Linked DNA regions of Homo sapiens. The protein of the gene in region 2 purifies or fractionates together with the protein of the main gene of each other region. This does not show direct contact. Each region holds a gene or a part of one and is shown on either strand. Other genes may lie near its edges.

Evidence for each region.
Region 1: the proteins of PACSIN2 (region 2) and TRIOBP purify together in Homo sapiens (affinity purification with mass spectrometry; 2 studies listed by BioGRID and IntAct, with this or other methods). This does not show direct contact.
Region 3: the proteins of PACSIN2 (region 2) and MICALL1 purify together in Homo sapiens (affinity purification with mass spectrometry; 2 studies listed by BioGRID and IntAct, with this or other methods). This does not show direct contact.
Region 4: the proteins of PACSIN2 (region 2) and RAI14 purify together in Homo sapiens (affinity purification with mass spectrometry; 3 studies listed by BioGRID and IntAct, with this or other methods). This does not show direct contact.

Annotation. Positions count from the first base shown.
Region 1 is NC_000022.11:37,695,583-37,699,847, reverse strand, and holds the start of TRIOBP (TRIO and F-actin-binding protein), read right to left. Parts: upstream 2,801-4,265; 5' UTR 2,759-2,800; intron 2,261-2,758; 5' UTR 2,152-2,260; intron 1-2,151.
Region 2 is NC_000022.11:42,869,273-42,872,149, forward strand, and holds the end of PACSIN2 (protein kinase C and casein kinase substrate in neurons protein 2), read right to left. Parts: exon of another isoform or gene 2,713-2,877; intron 2,232-2,712; exon of another isoform or gene 2,198-2,231; coding exon 2,085-2,197; 3' UTR 501-2,084; downstream 1-500.
Region 3 is NC_000022.11:37,926,797-37,930,296, reverse strand, and holds part of MICALL1 (MICAL-like protein 1), read right to left. Parts: exon of another isoform or gene 3,358-3,500; intron 3,342-3,357; coding exon of another isoform or gene 3,171-3,341; intron 2,887-3,170; coding exon 2,471-2,886; intron 1-2,470. UniProt on the Homo sapiens protein: Lipid-binding protein with higher affinity for phosphatidic acid, a lipid enriched in recycling endosome membranes. On endosome membranes, acts as a downstream effector of Rab proteins recruiting cytosolic proteins to regulate membrane tubulation.
Region 4 is NC_000005.10:34,659,328-34,662,827, reverse strand, and holds part of RAI14 (ankycorbin), read right to left. Parts: intron 1-3,500. UniProt on the Homo sapiens protein: Plays a role in actin regulation at the ectoplasmic specialization, a type of cell junction specific to testis. Important for establishment of sperm polarity and normal spermatid adhesion.

The DNA.
Region 1 (4,265 bases), 5.2 Mb from region 2:
GATTCCTGGCCAGGCGCAGTGGCTCACGCCTATAATCCCAGCACTTTGGGAGGCCGAGGCGGGCAGATCACCTGAGGTCAGGAGTTCGAGACCAGCCTGGCCAATATTGCCAAACCCTGTCTCTACTAAAAATACAAAATTAGCCAGGCATGGTGGTATGCACCTGTAGTCCCAGTTACTCGGGAGGCTGAGGCAGGAGAATCACTTGAACCCAGGAGGCGGAGGTTGCAGTGAGCCAAGATTGCACCACTGTACTCCAGCCTGGGTGATAAGAGTGAGACTCTGTCTTAAAAAAAAAAAGTGATTCCCCAGGTGATTCTAGTGCGCCCCAAAGTTTGAGTGTCCTTGTCTTATAGCTGCATTGTAGATCAAATTAATGCCAATTTTAGATCAGGCAACTAAGGCTCAGAGAGGTTCCTTCGGTCACTGAAGGTCGCAGTGGCTGATTCAAATCCAGGGCTGTGTGTGTCCCTGCTCTCTCGGAGGTGGAAGTGAGGAGCACTGGATCATACTGCCAACTCGCACAGGTCCCTTGGGAAGCACAGCGAGGGAGGCAAAAAGCTGGCCAGGTATTTTCAGAGTTGAGGACGACGTCTTTGACAAACGTGAACAGCCTAAAGTCACACAGCAAGTTTGTGGCAGAACTTAGCCAAAAAGAAATCCTAATGTGTTTTCGTTTTGTTTTGTTTTGTTTTTTTGAGACGAAGTCTCTCTCTGTCACCTAGGCTGGAGTGCCGTGATGTGATCTTGGCTCACTCGGCTCACTGCAACCTCCGCCTCCTGGGTTCAAGCAATTCTACCTCAGCCTCCCCAGTAGTATCTGGGATCACAGGCATGCACCGTCATGCCTGGCTAATTTTTGTATTTTTAGTAGCAACGGGGTTTCGCCATGTTGGCCAGGTGAACTCCTGACCTCAGGTGATCCGCCCCCTTCGGCCTCCCAAAATGCTGGGATTACAGGTGTGAGCCACTGCATCCGGCCCCTAATGTCTTTTTTGGGGAGGTGGGGGCAGGGTCTTGCTCTGTCACCCAGGCTGGAGTGCAGTGGCTCGATCATAGCTCCTTGCAACCTCAAACTCCCGGGCTCAAATGATTCTCCTGCCTCAGTCTCTGGGACTGAGTAACTGGGACTACAGGTGTACGCCACCACGCCCAGCTAATTTTTTTCTTTTTTATTTTGTAAAAATGGGCTCTTGGCCAGGTGCGGTGGCTCACGCCTATAATCCCAGCACTTTGGGAGGCTGAGGCAGGCAGATCACTTGAGGCCAGGAATTCAAGACCAGCCTGCCCAACATGATGAAACCCTGTCTCTACTAAAACTATAAAAATTAGCTGGGCGTGGTGCGCATGCCTGTAATCCCAGCTACTCAAGAGGCTGGGGCAAGAGAATTGCTTGAACCCAGGAGGTGGAGGTTGCAGTGGAGCTAAGATCGCCCCGCTGCACTCCAGCCTGGGCAACAGTGTGTCTCAAAAAAAAAAAAAAAAAAAAAAAAGGCTCTTGCAGTGTTACCCAGGCTGGTTTTGAACTCCTGAACTCCTGACCTCAAGTAATCCTCCTCCTTCCCTCAAAGTGCTGGGATTACAGGTGTGAAGCATCATACCCTTCTGAAACCCTGGTGTCTTTCTTTCTTTTTTTTTTTTTTTTTTTGAGACAGAATCTCGGTCTATCACCCAGGCTGGAGTGCAGTGGCGCGATCTCGGCTCACTGCAACCTCTGCCTCCCGGATTCAAGCAATTCTCCTGCCGCAGCCTCCCAAATAGCTGGGATTACAGGCATGTGCCACCATGCCCGGATAATTTTTTTGTATTTTTGGTAGAGACGAGGTTTCACCATATGGGCCAGGCTGGTCTCGAACTCCTGACCTTGTGATCCACCCACCTCGACCTCCCAAAGTGCTGGGATTACAGGCTTGAGCCACCGCGCCCGGCCGCCCTGGTATCTTACTTGTGCAAGGGTTCTCCTTTCTGGGTGCCCCTAAGGCCACCAACATCCATGCCCTGGAGTGGAGCTGGGTCAGGAGAATCACTTAAAGATGGCCTCCCCACTCACACAGAGCCCCAGGGGGAGGGTGGGGGGTGGGAGGAACCCAACATCCCAAAACACCTGCAGCTTTTGGTGCCCCCAGGTCACCTGCCCACATCCATCCTCACCTGCTGTGTTCCAGGGGATCAGGCTTTTGTGGCCAATCTTGGTGGAGAGCTGAGGAATTTCACCTCCTCCCCTGGGACAGCCAGGGCCAAGGCTCCTCCATCATCAGACCTGGAGAAGGGAATGCGGTGGGGGCGACAGCAAGGCACGGTGGGGAGAGGGCTACCCACTGGTCCTTCCGTGGCCCCAGGGTCTCTGATCCTCCCCGGGCGGTCGTCCTCCCGACTCCTGGTGGTGGAAGAGGGGCGCATCGGCCCCGCCCGTCCTGGGCGTTTCTCTCCTGGTCTGGCCACATAAAGGAGCGTCGCCTAGCAGGAGAACGCCGCTCATTTTCCTGGGGGTGGGTAGGGGGCTCTACTCCACGTGCCCCTCGCTGCTCCCGTTTCCTCCCCTACCCACAACCAATAGGCAGAATCCTTCTCTAAAATGCACTTGAGATGTGGATATAATAATCAAAACCTTAAGCAGCTACACATGCCCCACCCAGAGAATGGACCCGGGACCCTCTCCATCCAGGCATTCAGCCAGTTCCTCCCCGGATCCCTCGACCCCTACCCCTCCTGTAGGCCTCCCCCTACCAGCTCCTCTTTTCTGAGGCCCAGTGCTAACCTTGGCTGGGTTTCCACGCACAGGGGCTGCCGGGGTGGGAGTGCCAGGGTCATGGCCTCTTTATTTTAACAATGAATCAGAGCGATGCTCGGGAGGTGGAAGGCCACGCCCCTGCCACGCTCGCATAGGCTCTCTCTGGGTGCCTCATTTACATGAAGACTGTGGGACTCTGTGGGACTGGACAAACCAGAACAAGGGGCGGGGCGGAGGCAGGCGGGGCGCAGATACCTCTGAGAGCGGGACTCACTGCACGTTTAGCCTGGGCCGCCTGCAGCCCTTGCCCGCTGGGGGTCCCCAGGGAGCCCTGGAGAGGGCTGGCACTGGCGGATCTGGCTCCTTCTGACCTCTTTCCCGTTGGTTCATTCTGCCGACAGTCCGCTGGGCTGGCTTTAGCACAGACCTTGGACTAGAGTCTTAACCTCTCTGTCATGACAGTTTTCTTACCGAGGAGGCGGAGGTTGCAGTGAGCTGAGATAGCGCCATTGCACTCCAGCCTGGGCGACAGAGCAAAACTCTTGTATAAAAAAGAAAAAAAAAATAGCCTGGCGTGGTGGTGTGCGCCTGTAGTCTCAGCTACTCAGAAGGCTGAGGCAGGAGCATCGCTTGAACCCGGGAGGCGGAGGTTGCAGTGAGCCGAAATCACACCACTGCACTCCAGCCTGGGCAACAGAGTGAGACTCCGCCTTAAAAAAAAAAAAAAAAAAAAAAAAAAAAACTTGTTTCCCATCTTTTTTCCTTTTGGTTGATATTTGCCAATTGTGGCGACTGGGATGGGAGGAGGAGGGCGAAATTCACTGGACAGGGAGGAAGGTTGCAGCAGGAGTCCAGGAGAGATGGGTGCAGTGATGAGACAGGGAAGGTAAACTAGATTCAGACACTTGTAGGCAGGTGAGCTTGGCACTAGGGTCACAGAAATCTTAGATTATTTTGAGAGTTGTTGGGGATCACCTGGGGGTTGGATTCAGACAGGATTGGCTGAGAACCTACATTGACACAAGCTTGTGCCCAGAGCAGAAACAGAAATGACTAAGATACAATTTCTCACTCAGAAAGCTCTGGTCTGGTTCGAGGGACAAACCAGGATTCACTGTGTTCAGTGTTTAAAAGAAGGAAACACCTACTATCATGGGAGGTCAGGTGGAGAAAGGAGGAAGGCAGAGAAGGCTTCTCCTTGGAGGTGGCTCAAAGGTGAGGAGATCGAGAAAGGCTGAGAACAGCCTGCAAACCTCTGAAGGTGGCTGGGGGAGGCCAATGCTAGCTCAGAACAAGGCGGGCATTTCTAGCAGTCCTCACAAGGGAGCAGGCAGTGAGCTCTCCAAGCTCAGGAGGAACTGAAGCCCCTCACCAGAGCCACCTGCAAGCCAAAGGAAGGTCAATGGCTCAAACCTGGGGGCGTCAAGGTCGTCAGCACCACTGGGACCTTGGAAAGGATGGACGCTGAGGCTTATATGACCCCAGAACACCTGCCCCCACAGTTCCTCACCTCACCCCCCTGGGGAGAGCTCAG
Region 2 (2,877 bases):
TTCGCTCAGTGCTTTGGGCTGGCTGAGACTCCTCAAGAAACCCTGGCTGGCTCTTGGAGCCTCTGTTTCCTCCTCGGTAGAATGGAAATGGGGAGACTTGCCCATACCCTGTGGAGATGTTTGGAGACGCAGATAATGTAAGTAAAAAGTGGAGAGCACACAGTAGGTGCTCAGGAAAATGTGCTCATAGGAGAGTTATGGGTGATGTCAGTCTTGTCCTGCTGTTTGGGCTGGGGCAATAGAGAGGCGCCAGCCGATGCCCGCACCATGTGGAAGCCCAGGTCAAACAGCAGCAGGTCTCGGGGAGAAGGGAACCCCAAGGGGCTCAGGTGCCTCAAATCCCCAACCTCCAGTTTGGCAGGGGCAGTGGGCCGTGGCCTTTTGGGCAGGGGTCCTGTGCCCTGGATCTTGCCCAGCTCCAAAGCTAGTAAGCCCCAGGGAGGCCACCCCCGCCAAGTGAAGTGGGCATGAAGACAGATGATGGCGAAGGGACTTCCATATGCACGAGATCAACTGTTTATTGATTTTTTTCCTCAAATACTACACATGTAAAGGAACTGTTAAACTGAAAAAGACTTGACAATTTTTGGTAAATCCGTAGCACAGAAATGAGGATTTCTGCTGGTAAGTTCTCAGGACAGACACAGACACAGGTCCACTTTCCAAGCAAGACATCTGCTCACTGGAAACGGAGTGAATGCATAGCTGGTGACGGCGGCGGGCACTGCTGAGTCACGTGAAACACAGGTTCCCCCACGTTCCCCCCACCCCCGCCGGCCCGCGTGGCCCCCGCGTAACTCTGGCTGCAGCACCTGCTCCCGGGCGACTCCGGGCAGCCCGAGACACTCGTGCTGCGGGTAAGACCCAGCTTCTGTTTGTGCACAAGTAACACGACGACTGAAATCTGCAACTACTGCAAAGACGCGGGCACTTTTACAGTGTTCTGCTACGGAGCCAGGACAAAGGCCGGTCAGAAGCCGGACCAGCAGTCAGCTGGTGACGACGAGCCTCCCTCCAGCAGGCACCACGTCAGAGAGGCCCCAGGCCCACTGAGCCCGGGAGGAGACCCAGCCGGCCAGCCAGACGTGTGCCTGAATGCCACAGACTTCAAGCAGTTTACAAACGAAACTCACTGTTAAAAGCTGTTAAATCTCATTAAAACAGTAGACGAGTGCTTTAGATTCTCTGAATATCAAATAATATATACAGATAGACACTGAGACATGACAGTCTAATCTAAAGCATCTTTACAGATGCATTTGCTTGAAAAGTTAGTCTTCTTTTTAACTCTGAATCAGTGATAAAATTGTTAATTTGCAAAAGAGTACAGTTTTAAGCAAGAATAGAGTGAAAATAATTTTTAAATATGGCGATTTGGGGGAGTTCTACCTAAGGTTCTATGTAAAGCTTCCATTCAGATGCCCAAAAGCACAAAGAGCATTCCCAATAGAAACCCGACCATAACCCGGTCCCACCTTCCTGGCATAATTCCTTTCCTCAAACATCTGCCACCTGAGGCTAAGCCTACACACGGCGTGGCTGAGTAACAGGGTAAGGGAATAGGGAGATCGTTTCCTCAAGACTGGTGCGCATCAATCTGTGCCATAATTTAAGTAGAAATGAACAGGTGTATAAAAAAGTATAACTGTACACAGCCTTTAAATTAAAAACCTCAAAATCTTCACTCAAAATGGGATGTAAGCTTGTTCATTTAAGTTGCAGGTGATGGACTCGTCAGAGAGAGTAATCAGTGGAACAAGATCAGTGTAACCCACCATTGACTCGGAAAGGAGAGACAAAGTCAAGAACATAGAGATCTATGATAGGCCAACAGGCACAGTGGGCGGGGAGGGGCGGCTATTTCTGTTGTTCTGCGTCTTCCTGCGCTCAGATCCCTCCAGCTGCACTCGGAAAGGTGCCGAGTCCCAGGCGAAATGACCAGCTCATCTGCCTTCCAGGAACACCATGAAGCCAAGAGCAATGGAACCATCATCTCTTGCAGGAAAAGGAGTGGATGCCCACGTGGCTGGCTGAGGCTCCTGGGCCCGCCGCCTCCGTCCCCCCGCTGGCCTGTCCCCGACTCATCACTGGATCGCCTCCACATAATTTGCCGGGTATAGGCCAACTTGCCCGTTGTCCAAGCGTCCCTTGCACCAGCCCTGCTCATCCTCGTCCTCCATCTTGGTCAGCTCATCCCCTGCAAGACAAAGAGGGAGCCGTCTCCATGAGAGGTATGACACCGACGGTGGGCTACAGAGCCGCATTCACGAGCTTTGAGCCCACAGAGGGTGGAGGGCCAGGCATTCTGTGGCGGGCAGGCCGAGGGCCTGGTCATTTCTCTACTAAATGCATGCATTTTAAGTTGCCTCTTTGGTCATGGGCCTCTGACAGACCTAGAGATGACAGTCTCACACAGTAATTTGGAACAAGCTGCTCTCAGCTGCCACAGTGGCTCCCACTGAGACTGCGGCATCCAGCTCCATAGGGCTGTGCCTTCCTCACCACCCTGGCCAGGTGGCAGGAATCGTCCCTCGGTTGTGCCCCTCCCTCACGTTGGGCCTCTTCTGTCCCCTCCCCAGGGCCCCGGCCGCCTTGCTCCCAGCAGCTGTCTCTGGGGTCTCTCTGCCTTTGCTAATCCCTCTCCTCTGCAACTTCCAGGCTGCGAGGGGAAGGGACCATGTCTGACAGTCATACCTGTCATTTTATCCCCAGCACCTGGCTGATGACTTGTGCACGGTGCCATGTGTCAACCCTTCCTGAGACCCTGAGAAGGAGCCCCTGGCGCTGTTCTGGAATCTCCCTGTGGCTCTAATGTATTAACGTGGTTCCATTTATCTTTGGTTGTTCCAACCTGAAGGACCTCCTACTTCTGGCCAG
Region 3 (3,500 bases), 4.9 Mb from region 2:
CCTGGGGTGACAGTGGGACAGGGGTTCCCCACAAGCAAGTGCACCCGGGGTTCTGCCCCCTCCCTCTAACACACCCAGAGGGGCCAGCAGAGCCAAGCAGCCCAAAGCCCCTGAGCCCCTCAAAGGTTTTCAGCCTTTTCTCAGCCCCAAAACTTCAGACCAATATTCACGCAGCCCAGGACACGAAACACGAGAATCCGAAGGTGACCCACCCCCGTGCCCTCCACCACCAAGGAACCAGGGGGTCTTTCGAGCACTCAGGACACTTGGTGCCGCCAGCCCCTCACCATCTGTGGGAGCCCGAGGCCCAGAGGAGGATGGGGCCTGCTCAAGGACACACAGCAGGTGGGAGGCAGAGCCAGAATCAATGCCCAAGAGGCTCTTGCCGGGACCAGGGAAGGTTCAACGATGCCTGAGGCACATGGGCAGGGTCAGGCTACAACTTCAGCTGCCCCACAAAGGCTGTCCTGCCACCCTCTACCTGGGGCCAGATGAGCCTTGGGAGCTCAGAGGCCTGCAGAGCGTTGGGCCATCCAAAGGCGCTGTGGCTGCAAGACAGGGCCCTCATGAACTGGGTGCCCAGAGGAAAGTACTGAGCCCAGGCAATCCCCAGGTTCTCAGTATGGGGCTGAGAAACAGGTGAGCCCACAGCACACAGCATACCTGGAACAGGAGCAGCCTGGATGGGTGCCCAGCCAGAACCTCCCCACGCCCATGTCACCTGAGAAAAGACAGAGCCCAGCAAGGGAGCAGGAGGACAGGATAGGGCCACGTCTGCTCTCCTCGGTAAACACCCCTCATGGCACACAACAGAAGCACCCAAGAAAGCTGTGTGTCCTGGGTCCTTCTGCCTGTTGAGGGCTGACCCCCTGCCCACTACAAACTCCACACACAGCAGCATGTACATTATAGCACCTCCCCCTGACCTGGCTGGGAGCGCCTTGGGGACAGGGACCACTATGTCCACATGACCTGTGGAGCCCAGGCAGCCATGCACATGGGAGGCATTCAGAGACCCCAGCTCCCCTGTTCCATGGCGGGGAGACCCAGGTCTCTGCAGAAGGGAGTGAATCCCTCCCCTCTGTGCTCTACTCTAGGTCACCTTCCAAAATGCCCATTATGCCTATCTCCCTGAGCAGATCGTGAGCCCCTGGAGGCCAAAGACAGGGTCTTTTTTTTTTCTGAGACAGAGTCTCATTCTGTTGCCCAGGCTGTGGGCCATCTCAGCTCACTACAACCTCCACCTCCCAGGTTCAAGCAATTCTCCTACCTCAGCCTCCCAAGTAGCCAGGATTACAGGTGCCTGCCACCACACCTGGCTAATTTTTGTATTTTTAGTAGAGATGGGGTTTCACCATGTTGGCCAGGCTGGTCTCAAACTCCTATCCTCAAGTGACCTGCCTGCCTCAGCCTCCAAAGTGCTGGGATTACAGGTGTGAGCCACCACGCCCAGCCAGGATAGGGTTTTAATACAACTCTGCCCAGGGTCTGGCATCAGTAGAGCCTGAGTGAATGGAAGAGCGGACAGACAATACGGGATGACTGGTGGCTGGTGAGTGGAACCCAAATAGGCAAGTGGAGGGGATGGGAGGCAAACAGGGGCCCTGATACATAAGACCTGGGAGGCTATGTTTGTGGACAGGTGGATAGATAGGTGGGAGCTCTGGCAGATGGATGGAAGCATGGACAGACGGGTTTGTGCCTCATTGGACAGAGTGGGTAATGGGTAGATAGACTGGCCAAGGCCACTCAGGAAGTCAGAGGCCAGTAAAGATAGAAAAGGCCCTAGACAGCCGGGGGCAGTGGCTCACGCCTGTAATTGCAGCACTTTGGGAGGCCAAGGCGGGTGGATCGTGAGGTCAGGAGATCGAGACCATCTTGGCTAACACGGTGAAACCCCGTCTCTACTAAAAATACAAAAAATTAGCTGGGCATGGTGGCGGGCGCCTGTAGTCCCAGCTACTCGGGAGACTGAGACAGAAGAATGGTGTGAACCTGGGAGGCGGAGCTTGCAGAGAGCCGAGATCACACCACTGCACTCCAGGCTGGGTGATAGAGCGAGACTCCGTCTCAAAAAAAAATAAAAAAGAAGGCCAAGCATGGTGGTTCATGCCTGTAATCCCAGCACTTTGGGAGGCTGAGGCAGGCGGATCACGAGGTCAGGAGATCGAGACCATCCTGGCTAACGGGGTGAAAACCCCACTCTACTAAAAATACAAAAAATTAGCCGGGCGTGGTGGTGGGCGCCTGTAGTACCAGCTACTTGGGGGCTCAGGCAGGAGAATGGCGTGAACCCAGGAGGCAGAGCTTGCAGTGAGCCAAGATCGCGCCACTGCACTCCAGCCTGGGTGACAGAGAGAGACTCCATCTCAAAAAAATTAAGAAAAGGCCCTGGACATTTCTGCCCTGAGACCAGACCCGCATCCACTAGAGAGGATGTCACTTTTAGTGAGGGTGAGGGGGCACTCACCTTTACCTGCAGCTGTGGGGACGAGCTTCCAGGGGAAGGCACCGGGCTCCTGTCTCCAACCAACAAGAGAGGCGTTGGGGTGGCGCCACTGCAGGGCTTGGCTGGCTGGGGACCTGAGCTGCCCCTGGTCCTGGGGGCAAGGCCAGGGCTGGCTTGAGGCATTTGTTCCACTCTAGGCTCCACTAGTTCCCCAGAGGAGGCCAGGGAGGAGTTGGTAGAGAGGCTGACAGGGTTTCCAGGGGTACCAGGGGCATGGACAGCAGGCTCTGAGGAGCTCTTGGGCACAGCTGGCGGCTCCAGAAGCTCTGCACCTGCAGTCTGGCTGGCGCTCTCAGACGACAGGCTCTCCACGCTGAGCGCTGGCGATGGTGTGGCCGAGGGCGGCTCCGAGTGCGAGAGGCGGGAGGCGTGGAGAGCTGTGCGGACGAGCACCAGGACACCTCACAAGGGGAGCACCACAAGGGCTTCCAGCCCCACCTCCCGGCTCCACTCTCAACAGAGCCGCAGGCAGCCCCAGAAACCCAAGCCCTCCACATCGAGACAGGGCCAAGGCCCAGGGAACAGCAAACGCCCGGCAGGACGGAAGTCATGAGGTGCATCCAGCCACCCGAGTCCAACCCGCCCGCCTTGCGTTCTGCCTGCTGCCTCCACTTCCCCACACTCCCCATAGCCCCCATGAGGGCACCCACAGCAAAACCACCTTGGGAATGCCAGAGGAAGAGAGGTGGCCCCTCCTCTGCCCCTGATCTGCAGTGCGGAGGCAGAGGGGAGGAGCACGCAGCCCTCGCAGCCACCAGCTCTGGGACAGGCACTGCCGGGCACCAATTTATCTCCTCGTGGCTGATGGATATGATGCTTCCAAACACATTATCTGCATTTTCCAGATGAGGCAACAGGCTTAGAGAGGAGAGGGCACTCGCCCCAGCACGGGGTGGGACTGAATCCACTGTATCTGACTCCAGAGCTCATGCTCCTCTGCTGTCCCCTGAAGCTGCCCACCACTTCCACCCAGACAGGCCAGCCTCAGCTG
Region 4 (3,500 bases), on a different chromosome or scaffold from region 2:
GAACTTGAGAGGCGGAGGTTGCAGTGAGCCGAGATCACCCTATTGCACTCCCGCGTGGGCAACAGAGTGAGACTCTGTGTCTAAAAAAAAAAAAAAAAAAAAAAAATCTGTTTAAATTGTGCAACATTTTACTAATAATCATATAATTCTATGTTTATGATTTTCAGCTTAAAGTTTAACCCTATCTGGATCCATAATATACTGATTTCTTTCAATATCATTTTATTACAGAGGATACAATAAGAAATGTAAATGGTGTACTTCAGTATTCTAGTAATGTTTTAAAGGATATCATCAGTATCGTATACCTAATATAGTTCACTGGGAAAAAAAATCTAGACTCCTTTTCCCTATCACCATATAAAATGCATCCAAGAGGCCTCTGATATATTTAGCTTTGTTTTGTCAACTCCTATACTCATCATGCAAGGTAGAAAAAATTCAGTTGGCTTCTACTGAAACAATGCATTAGTGCTATAATAGTGAATGTTTTTTGTGCCATGAATTAAGGACTGTACGATGTGGCAATTCTTAGAGTATATCTAGGGACCTTTCTACATATTAGTTGCTCCAACATCTTCAGATTAAGGTTCTCATTTTCCTTCCATCATGAAAAATACATCCCTCCTCCCCCTCCAAAAAAATCCTCATAGATAAAAGCACAAAGTCAGGGCAATGATGATGTACACTCTGCAACAATCCAACAAAATACACTGTTTGTTCTTAGAAACGCAGTGTGGACCGGGGGCAGTGGCTCATGCCTGTAATCCCAGCACTTCAAGAGGCTGAAGCAGGAGGACCTTCTGAGCCCAGGAGTTCAAGACCAGCCTGGAAAACATAAGGAGACCTTGTCTTTGTAAAAAGTAAAAGAAAAACTAGGCAGGTGTGTTGGCACGCGCCTGTAGACACAACTATTTGAGAAGCTGAGGTGGGAGGATCACTTGAGCCCAGGAGTTCCAGAACAGAGCAAGATCCCATCTCAAGAAAAAAGAAAGAAATGCAGTGTGCTTCATGTTGCTTGGGATGGCTGCTGGCCTGTTACTGCAGATGTCGTGTGGAATACAGTCAGCATCTACTGGTTATGCATCTTCCACATTCATCGCATTGGAAACCAGGTTATCACAAAAGGAAAGATGGGTGTGCTTCCAAGCACCGTGTTACTTATGTTTTCCTCTAAATTCAGGATTAGGCAAAATGTTGGGAGAAAAAAAGTCTGAAGACATTAAGTGGCTTATAGGATAAATCACATAGATTTAAAAGGAGTGGTTTCCCTAGAAGACATAAGTTTTCTTACCCTGAAGGAATCTGTAAATATGAGATATGGTGCACATACCAGCACCATTTAGGATATCCAGTAAGTGTTAAAGGCGAAATTCCACAGAGAAAAAATAACAACAAAAAGCATATCCATTTGTTCATCAAACATCTGTTTACCTGCTAGGGGTCAACATTGTTCTAGACACCATGAATACAACAGTAAACAAGAGTGGCAAACCCCATGCCTTTGTAGAGCTCATAATCTAGTACAGAATACTGATATAAATTATAGATTGAGTATCCCTAAACCAGGAATCTGAATCTGAATCTGAAATGCTCCAAAGTCCAAAACTCTTTGAGCACCTACACGACACCAAAGGAAAGACCCACCGGAGCACTTCAAATTTTTGGATCAGGAATGTTCAACCATGTAATACAAATACTCCAAAAATTTTAAAAATATCCAAAATCTGAAACACTTCTGGTCCCAAGCATTCTGGAATAAAGAATACTCAACCTATACACGGCAAGCTAGAAGGTGGTAAGTGCCTTGGAGGTAAATAAAGCAGGGATGAGGTTGCAGGCTGGACTGGAAGGAGGTGTCTCAACATAACACCTGAAGGGATGACACAGCCATGTAGACGTCTAAGAGAAGTGCTTTCCAGGTAGTGGGAAGAGCACATGCAAAGGCTCTGAGGCAAGACGCCTGGTGATCCTTTTGCAGAATTCACGAGCATGATGATTGCATGTGTAACATGTGTCTGACATGAACTTAGGGAAAAAAAAAAAAAAGAATGTGCCCAGCAATTTGAAGGAATGAGGACGCCAATGTGTTTAAATGCCTTAAACTCCTTTCAGCCTGAGTGGTTACCATTAGGGTAAAAATGCGTCACTAACACAGCAACATTTTCACAGACTCTTAGAACAGGAATGTGCCTTTGTAAATGCTTACTCCTACCCCTTAATCTTACCAAAGAAATGAGGAAGAGGAGGTTGGGTGAGTAATCCAAGGTCACACGGCCAGTGAGTAGCTGAGAAAAGGTTTCTGCACAAGAATCCCAAACAGCACCATGGATTTGTCTCATGCTTCAATTTTACAATGAAGAGCCACTTTTTCTTTTTCTTTCTCTCTTTGAGTTGGAGTTTCACTCTTGTTGCCCAGGCTGGAGTACAATGGCCGGTGGGATCTCGGCTCACTGCAACCTCCACCTCCCAGGTTCAAGCGATTCATCTGCCTTAGCCTCCCGAGTAGCTGGGATTACAGGCATGCGCCACCACGCCTGGGTAATTTTGTATTTTTAGTAGAGACGGGGTTTCTCCATGTTGGTCAGGCTGGTCTCGAACTCCTGACCTCAGGTGATCCACCTGCCTCGGCCTCCCAAAGTGCTGGGAGCTGAGACAGGGTCTCACTCTGTCGCCCAGGCTGCAATGCAGTGGTGTAATCTAGGCTCACTGCAGCCTTGACATCCAGGACTCAAGCAATCCTCCCACCTCAGCCTCCTGAGTAGCTAGGACCACAGGCACACCACCACACCCAGCTAATTTTTGTATTTTTTGTAGAGATGAGGTTTTACCATGTTTCCCAGGCTAGTTTTGAACTCCTGAGTTCAAGCAATCCTCCTGCCTTGGCCTCCCAAAGTGCTGGGATTACAGGCATGCAACACTACACCAGTCCCACTTTTCTTAATTAAAACAAAGAAAGAAAAAAGAAAAAAATAATCCAGCCAACTATGTAATCTTCTTAGAATTTAATCAGTTTCACTTTTTTAGTCAACAGATAGCCAAGACCATACAAGCACCCTAAATATTTGTTGAAGAATGAATAATAAATGCAATATTACCTAAACTTCATTACCCAGCAACTAACTAAATAAGTGTGTAACAGAAAAATGTGTGCACAAGAAAACATCTCAGGATGTTTATTGTACAAACTGTTATAGTAAAAAGAAATAAAAATAAAAATGAAAATGGAAATAGAGTGTCACTCAGCAGAAAAAGTGTAACAGTGAAAAACTAGGCCAGGCACAGTGGCTCATGCACTGTGGAAGGCTGAGGTAGAAGGCTCACTTGAGGCTGAGAGTTCAAGGCCAGCCTGAGCAACATAGTAAGACCCTGTCTCTACAAAAATGAAAAAAATTAGCCAGGCATGGTGGCATGTGCCTGTGGTCCCAGCCACTTTGGAGGATGAGGCAGGAGGACTGCTTGAGCCCAGGAGATTGAGGCTGTAGTGAGCAGTGATCACG